2 separate regions of the Homo sapiens genome follow, and region 2 is linked to region 1. Evidence: fine-mapped expression QTL. A gene starts in region 1. The other region holds a variant in brackets. All regions are shown on one strand. Distances are between the middles of the regions. Region 1 holds the start of NUDT9 (nudix hydrolase 9). Region 2 overlaps SCPPPQ1 (secretory calcium-binding phosphoprotein proline-glutamine rich 1).

Region 1 (4,392 bases):
GGGTCTTGCTAAGTTGCCTAGACTGGTCTCAAACTCCTGGCCTCACACGATCCTCCTGCCTCAGCCTTCCAAAGCACTGGGATTACAGGTGTTAGCCACTGTGCCTGGCCATAAAATTCTTTTTTTGTTTTTCTTGAGACATTGTATCACTCTGTCACCCAGAATGGAATGCAGTGGCATGATCTCAGCTCACTGCAACCTCCACCTCCCCGGTTCAAGCTATTCTGCCACATTAGTTACCAGGTACTTGGCACATTTGTTAACTGTTGGCTTTTTCTTTCAAGTCAGTACAGTCTCTGGTTCTGGATATACCTGCCTCATGTAGGGTTCCCAGAGTTACAAAAACGAAGAATAACTGTCAAGCAACTTTACACTGTTCTGCTGGCATCTAACAAAAAGAGCATTAGAGATTTCCAGAGAGCACACACGTGTATTCCTTCCTTCCTCAAATCCCACTAAAAGAAGATAAAGATAGATAAAGGGAAATAAAATCCGTACCAGGAGAAGGAATAAATGCCACCAGTGAATGACAGATGGTAACCAACTTCAGGAAAATGAAAAGTTGTTGGAATATTGACCTACAAACCAGAGTAGGACAAAGTAAAATAAGAATATGCACCAAGGCCGGGCGCGGTGGCTCACGCCTGTAATCCCAGCACTTTGGGAGGCCGAGACGGGCGGATCACGAGGTCAAGAGTTCAAGACCAGATCAGCCTAACCAAGATGGTGAAACCCTGTCTCTACTAAAAATACAAAAAAAATTAGCCGGGCGTGCGCGCGCCAGTAATCTCAGCTACTCAAGAGGCTGAGGCAGAAGAATCGCTTGAACCCAGGAGGCGGAAGTTGCAGTGAGCCGAGATCGCGCCACTGCGCTCCAGCCTGGGCGACAGAGCGAAACTCCTTCTCAAAAAAAAAAAAAAAAAAAAAAACGCATTAGGGAGAAATGCTATTCCTACAAGCTGAGCCGAGCTAGAGGTTTCAAGCTTGAAGTCAGTGGGCCCAAGGATCATAAACTGGCAGCGCGACAATAACCATGGAAATCACTCAGTCCTCCTCCCTCCCCAATCTCCAAGCAAAAAGTCCAAAATAGTTATGTTTGTCTCCAAGATAAAATCAAAAGTTTTTTAGAAATGAAGGGGTAGGACCCCTACTGTGAATACTGGTGTTAAGAGTACACAGCAGAAACTTAGGCTTAATAATTTTACAGTTCACACGGAGGAAATAAACAGCTATACTCAGCAGAGAAGTTGCTCCACCACTACTGCAAAGCCTGAAGCAAAAGGCAGGTTCCCAGTCTACCCATCTGGTACCTGCTCACATGCCCTCAACTGAAACCTTCCTATCTAGGCAACCTGGTACAGAGCCAAAAGTCAATTAGCGACCCATGTACTGAAAACAAGACCTATTACTCATATTAATCAAAATATAGACAGATAACCAGTGCCCATCACATGTTCGAGAAAAAGCAACAGAAGGAAACAGGACCAAAAAGACACAGAACAATTGACCAACAGTAAGTAAATTATTTAGGAAATAGATTTTTCTAATTATCATCTTTGTAGATTCAAGACTTTTAATATCTATAAAATAAGAAAAGGCTGCTGCACCTAGGACCCTGTGTTTACTAACTCAAAGAATAAAAACTGGAGAAGGGAAGAACAGAAGGAGGCAGTGTAAGACACCATAAATCCCTAAATTTAACCACAATAGACAAATTATTAAAAAAAAGGAGGTAGATAGTAAATATAATATATTGTCCACCCTGGAAAGGGGACAGGGGGAATAGTGATTTTACTTTTCATTTTACATTTTCAAGTTGTTTTAACTATGTACATGTATTAATACTAATAATAATGTTTTAAGTATTAACCATAAAAAAATGGCACGGGACACCACCACCCCAAACAATTGCTATTTAAACTCTCTCGTGATACTAACAATGATTTACAGAGAATGGCAAATTTCAAAATCAGAAGTCAAGAAGGGTCCCTGCCACTCGTTTTCCTCAAAAGGCAGATAAAATATTTTAGAGCCTTTTTGAAAACTTGTATATGACTATAAAAACCCGAGAGGCAAAGCAAAGCCTACAGAATACGCCAGAAAAAAAAGCTGCTTCCCACCCCCAACTCAAGGTCTAGGGCAAAGGAGCCGGTAGTAGGAGGGTGGAATACCTGAACGCCTGGATGCCGCGGCAGCGCGAGGACCTGATAGTCACAGAGGCCAAGGCCAGAGAGAGAGACACCGCGGCTAAAGCCTTTCCCAGGAGGCGTCCCGCCATGAGCGCCCCGAGGGCGGCTTTGCGATGCTAGGTCGCTCTTAGTTGGTGCCTCCGCCTCCCCACACCCCACAGCTCCGAGTCCCGGCCGCGGGTATCTGATGGGCACTAGGACCTGTCTGCCGTTGGGTTCCCGAACGGGAGTAGCTGTGCCTATCTATAAATCACAGATCAAGAGCCCTCCCACGATAAGAGTCCACCGCTTTCCCCAGTGCATCGAGAAAAATCCAGACCAGCACGTGACGCCGAAGCCTCCAGCGCCAGCTGCCTGGGGAAACCGCGGCCACGAACCTCGTAACTTTCTCTCTGCGTAATGGCGCTTTACGGCCGCGCCGCAAAGCAAAGGTCGTGCGTTGCCGGCTTGGTAGCGCCTTCCTTCTCCGACTTCCCAGACTTCCCAGTCTGCGCAGGCTTACTTGGGGACGCAGGGAACTACCAAGAAAGTGTCAGAGGAAAGGAAAGGTGAAACAGACGAGGAACTGGAACGGGAATAAGTGGGAAAGAAGCCAAGGGGTTTGAGAGAGACTTGCTGCCCTGGGTTTTTGGTTTTTGTTTTTTGAGACAAGAGTCTGGCTCTGTCGCCCAGGCTGCAGTGCAGGGGCGCGATTTCAGCTCATTGCCGCCTCAACCTCCTGGGCTTAAGCGAGTCTCTTGTCTCAGCCCCCGACGTAGCTGGGACTACAGGCACACACCGCCATACCTGGCTAATTTTTGTATGTTTTGTAGCGACAGATTTTTGCCATGTTGCCCAGGCTGGTCTCCAACTCTCAAGCTCAAATAATCCAACTGTTTGGGCCTCCCACAGTGCTGAGGTTACAGGCCTCAGCCAACGCGCCTGGCCCTGCTCTGGTTTTTTTAGGGAGTAAGTTGTTGCGGAAGGACGCAGGTCTTAGCCATATTTTTGAATAATACTTCGTTATGGGAATGAAACCGCCTTTGCAAAATTATGACTGATTTGGGAGGCCGAGGCGGGATCACTTGCAGTCAGGAGTTCAAGACCAGCCTGGCCAACGTGGTGAAACCTCGTCTCTACTAAAAATACAAAAATTAGCTGGGCATGGTGGTAAACGCGCCTGTAGTCCCAGCTGCTCAGGAGGATGAAGCAGGAGAATCGCTTGAACCCGGGAGGTGGAGGTTGCAGTGAGCCAACGTCGCACCACTGCACTCCACCCTGGGCGACAAGAGTGAAACTACGTATCAAAAAAAAAAAGAAAAAACCTCTGCTCCCTGAATGCTCAGGGAGACTGATTTGAGTAATAATAGAACTCCGGTCTCACACAGCTGGCTCTGCATGAATTACTCTTTCTCTATTGCAATTCCCCTGTCTTGATGAATCAGCTCTGTCTAGGAAGCGGGAAAGGTGAACCCCTTGGGCGGTTACAGCAAGAGGAGATAGTCCAGAGACTCAGCCCTCGTATCTTGAAGGGTTTCTTGGTTTTTTGTTTTTGTTTTCTTAACCAAGTTGTCTGCTCCAATTGCTGGATTTCATTCACAAGGCTTTGCTAGGACCAGTTGTGGCCCTTGGAAACTCGTGGAGGAGAAAAGCTGTGAAAATAGGCACACATGCTGGAGGAGGAACAGAGGGCAACACACATAATACTGGATAATAAACTTGAGAGGCAAAAATTAAACAAACCGACAAACAAAGTTGGAAACCCAGACTGTCCAAAGCAGCTTGTAATCAGGCTTACTTCATTTATATTAGCTTATTGATGTGGCAACTATTTGACTTTTACTTACATGATCCGCTGTTTCTGTGGTGTGGTTCCAATACACCGACGTTACAAAACTTTGACCATCTTAAAAGCCAGATTAATCGAATTTTAACAACCATTGTTCTGAAAACTGCAGAACTCTCGACAGGTATTGACTGTTCAAACTACACTGTCAACCTAGACGCTGAGGCACGAGATAGAACTTAAAGCATTTACTTTAGCCAAAGTGAGGACAGCTGCCCAGAAGACCCAGACCCAAGTAACCTTAAATGTGAACTCCTGTCCACCTTTGTTACAATCAGGTTTTTAAAGGCAAAAAGGGGACAGGGAGTTGACTGATACAAAGTTGTAAAGAATTACTGGTTTGTAGAAATAGTATTGGTTAGTGGTTGGCTATACGTT
Region 2 (4,392 bases), 45 kb before region 1:
GAAAAAAACTCGAAATGATCTCCTACCCCTTCAATTCCAGGCTCGACCTTTAGAATGAAATTTCTCATCTTGGCTGGCCTTTTGAGCACTGCCACTGCTCTGCCCATCCCCGTGAGTACACCCTCCTCAGCTGCTGACTCAATTTCAGATTTAGAGTCATCGCATTTCTCGGCTAGAAAGCAGGTCTTATCTTTTCATTTCACAAAAGAGGAAAGCGGAACCCAGGAAAGTCATAGAACTAGGAGTTCACCACTCTTTGTCAGTCCAAGACTCTGCCCAGTACAAATCTCAGCTCCATATGCCATGTGCTAGCTGTGTGACTTTGAACTAACCCATGGTTTCCTTGTCTATAAAATGAGTCCTAGGAACACCTCAGAGTTGCACGGAGATGATTTTTTTAATGCATCTAAGGCAGAGAAGGGTCCTATTTGAAAGATAGGATGTTCTCAATAAACTCAGTGATATAGAACAAATATTCTGCAGTGACCCAGGTCTAAATTAAGCAGTTTGAATTGAGTTTCATTTGTAATGCCCTTGCCCCAAACCATCTCATGTTTTCTTAAAAGGCTGTTACATGGAAATGCTCTGACACCAAAGGACTATCTACCTCATTGTAGATTTGATTTTAAAGAAGGAAATATTTAAGATAACTTACATTGATTACTAAATTATGAATATAAAAACAACTTATGCCTGAATTATATTTGAGTGATCATACAGACACACCTTTAAAGTCCAATTTTTGAAAACCAGATTTGGATAAAAAGCTACATTCATCTATAGTGCCCTTGATAACAAACCTAATTTGTTTCTTTAGACCACAATCCTTTTTGCCAAAGCTGGCAAGTATCGTGGTCTAAAATTCCAAACAATTTGTATTGCCTGTTTCTTTAGGCTGATGGGAATGCTGCAGTATACATATTTCATTAATTCTAATATGTACTTTTTGATATTTCAGCAGCTCTGAAATTGAGCTGTGTCTTAAAAACACAATTTGATAAAGTGTCACGGCAGCTTAACAGCAGCGCTTTTCTTTTTTGGTAATTTATGAAATAATGGTGCTTTTGACAATGATAGCATCTAAGAATATATGAAATACTGTAATCCCAGAACATCATTAACTTCACCTATATAGACATTTTGTCATCAACTGACTATATACAAATGAGATCCACTGAGTCTAATCTGGGTTTACTAGTCTGAATATGAGGGCACCAAGTAGGCAAGAAACTCTCTCCCCTGCACACTTTGTATCAAAGGAGCTTTTGAAGAAGTGAGGGAGCTTTCAAAATTTGTGTTTGGGGTGCAGAACTTAAGTGTACATTTCCACACTCCCTTCACTTTGAGTTTATAACTACTGAGAACTAAATCAAGAACACCATTCAAAGATTTACAAAAGGAAATATTCATGTAATATGGAATTAATCTTAAGAAATGTAAATAAAAGCATTCTTTGGATATAAATTTAAAAGCAAAAAGCCTTGGTCTTCCAAATCATTGCACAAAATTAATTAAACTTTTCCCTATTAGATATCCAACTGCTTTTTATTTCAGAAGTGAAGTTACATTACTGATGGGTATAATGCTCCATAGTGGCTTATTACTTATTCTCCTTTAGAACAAAACCTCTCTTTAGTGGATAATGTATTTCCATATGCTGCTTTACCTTGTTGCTGTTATTGTTTTGCAAGCTCGAACAATATGCTGAAAGTTCCAGTGAACAGGTGAACTTCTAATTGTATTTTTAAATAATGCATTCATCATTTTAAAAGTCTGCCATTGTCTGAAATGACTGACATCATGTTTCTTTTTACAGAGATTTATCTTTTACCCACCACAAGTACCACCATTTTTCCCTCAGGTCCTCTTTCCCCTACCTCCGCAACCGCCCCTGGTAAGCATGGGTTTGGGGAATCTGAAATAGCTAAAAGGATTTATTTGTTGGATGGTGGTTATGAAACTTTCCAAATTTTGATACTGAAATATGAGGCTTTAGGCAGTCCCCAGGAATCAGCTATTCAAACTTCTCTCCCA[T/C]ATAGCTTATAGTGGAACGTGACAAGGGGCTAGCAAATTTCCCTCCAAATCTTCAGTGCCCTCTCGCAGTGTTTCTCTGCACTTACTATTAAAAAGGTGTTTGTGCTGAATTACTTTGACCGTTACGAGCTTACTCTTTATGAAGAGAATACTTCTTTCTATAATATCCATTCTTTTGCTTTTTCAAATTCACCTTGTTGCTTTCTTTCTCTAAGAAGATTTTTTTTCCCCAGCTTTCTATAACTTTTTCCCAAGTTCAAGCAAAATAGTTATTTTGCTTTTCTGTTTGGACTCTCTCCAGGCTCTCCTAATATCTGGATTCTTAAAACATTTTTTCAATAAAGTTTGGAACAATGCTAAATACACAATAGAGTTGCCTTTATTCTATATATAACACTTTTGTAAGTCGACTACATTATAGAGTCAACGGTGAGTGCTTGAGGTACAAACAGTATAAGTTCAGATCTGATGAGGAAGAGAGACTCATAAAGGGAAACTACAATGTAATTTGATAAGTATTTCGAGACACAAATACAAAGCTATGGATCAAAGACTTCAGAGAAGACAGTATCTGAACCAGGTCTTGAAGGAAGACAAATGGATGAAACATTTCAGGCAGAGGAACAGCAAGTGCATGGGTGCAGACTTGAAAAGCACAAGGCAATTTGCGGGTAGAAAATTATTTTAGTCTAAAATAATGATGCTGCAACACAGATTGGGGCCTTGTTAAATTTGGATAAGTATTTAAGCAATGATTTTTTTCTTTAAAAATCACATACATTTTAAAACTTCACATACCCCTTATTTACAGACAAGGACCTCACTATGTCACCCAGGCTAGTCTCAAACTCCTGGGCTCAAGTGATCCTCCCACCTCCCACAGGCTCCCCAGTAGCTGGATTATAGGTGCACACCACCATGCCCAGCTCACAAACATTTTAAAACTACATCTTGCTTAATATTGTCTGATCTCCTAAATATTTTTAAATATACAAACATGATTTTGTGTAACTGTTTTTATATCTAAATTTAATAAACACCTTCCCTTTGCTTGCATTTAATTTCAAACTGTGTTTCTCTCAACTTTTAAAAATTTGTCACTAAACTTAGTCCTCAATAGAACATTTCTTCTCCTTTAATGTTTTTACTTGTTCTGATTGAATCCCAGCTGTTAAATTCTAAATATTATTCTTGCACTTATAATTAATTGCTAATTATTTTGGTTCTAGTCAGGACTAGGTGCATTGTTTCCCTATTGTTTGCTAAAATTTGTTTTTTTTGTTTTCGTTTTTGTTTTTTGAGACAGAGTCTCTCTCTGTTGCCCAGGCTGGAGTACAGTGGTGCAATCTCAGCTCACTGCAACCTCCGCCTCCCAGGTTCAAGCAATTCTCCTGCCTCAGCCTCCCGTGTAGCCACCATGCCTGGCTAATTTTTGTGTTTTTAGTAGAGATGGGTTTCACCATGTTAGTTGGGCTGGGCGAACTCACTCCTGACCTCAAGTGATCTGCCTGCCTCGGCCTCCCAAAGTGCTAGGATTACAGGCATGAGCGACCGTGCCCTGGCAAGATTTATTTTAAACTGATGCAAAATCTTGGAGTCTTGGTTTATAATTAGAACTTAGGAATCGCTGTTAACATTTAAATTTAAATTTATTTAAATCTATATGACAATTAAAAGAATCACTCTTCTGTGAAATGGAAACTCTTCCTACCACCAGATGGCAGACTAGTATCTTCAAAGCAAGCAAAGAAAGTAACACTTACTGTAGGGAAAGTGGTAGATTTGTAAAAACTATCAACACATTAAGACAGATTCCTGGGCTTTAAGTTAGATAAATTAAGAAGAACAACCATACCTCTTGAAAGAAAATATTATATTGAACCCACTAGATTCTAATCTCCACCAAATAGAAGGTGAGCTCTCTAAGTGTCATTTACTGCTATCCCTAAACCCTAGATATAGAATAATTGCTCAGTAAATATTGTAGGGATGGATGGATAGATGGGTGGAAGGATGAGTGAATGTATGAATAAATGAGAAAAAGCAAGAGAGAGTGTTCACAGTTTCATTCACAATTTACTTTTTTTTTTTTTTTTTTTTTTTTTTTTTGTAGATTTCTATTCCTTTTCCTTTTCCTTACAATCCAAATCAGGTGGTTATACTTAAAGCTTCCTTAGGAAATACTTAAACTAATACAAAACAAAAACTTGAAAATTCTTTAGATTTAATTGGGGAGAATTTGATACCAATAATTACTGGCTAACATTCTCTTTGGGGGACCACTAGTTATTGATATTTTGTTTGATTTGAGTAATTGAATGTTCAAATTTCACATATCCTTGAAAACTGAATTACCTA

Evidence for each region. PIP is the estimated chance that this variant, and not a neighbour inherited with it, causes the effect. A credible set is the group of variants that fine-mapping cannot tell apart.
Region 2: its variant is the best candidate, but not a certain one, in a credible set for the expression of NUDT9 in monocytes (TOPMed, PIP 0.83).

Annotation. Positions count from the first base shown.
Region 1 is chr4:87,420,792-87,425,183 of GRCh38, reverse strand. It overlaps NUDT9 (nudix hydrolase 9), which reads right to left and starts at 2,611. Exons shown (of 8, transcript NM_024047.5): 1 at 2,172-2,611. The coding sequence starts at 2,278. RefSeq lists enhancers at 240-741, 742-1,245, 1,789-2,723, 2,793-2,842.
Region 2 is chr4:87,465,311-87,469,702 of GRCh38, reverse strand. SCPPPQ1 (secretory calcium-binding phosphoprotein proline-glutamine rich 1) reads left to right here. Exons shown (of 10, transcript NM_001405228.1): 3 at 41-111; 4 at 1,692-1,724; 5 at 1,817-1,894. The coding sequence starts at 55. Among named protein-coding and RNA genes, the nearest start is that of SCPPPQ1, 3.5 kb to the left of the region's middle. The variant T/C (reference allele first, on the strand shown) is at 2,035.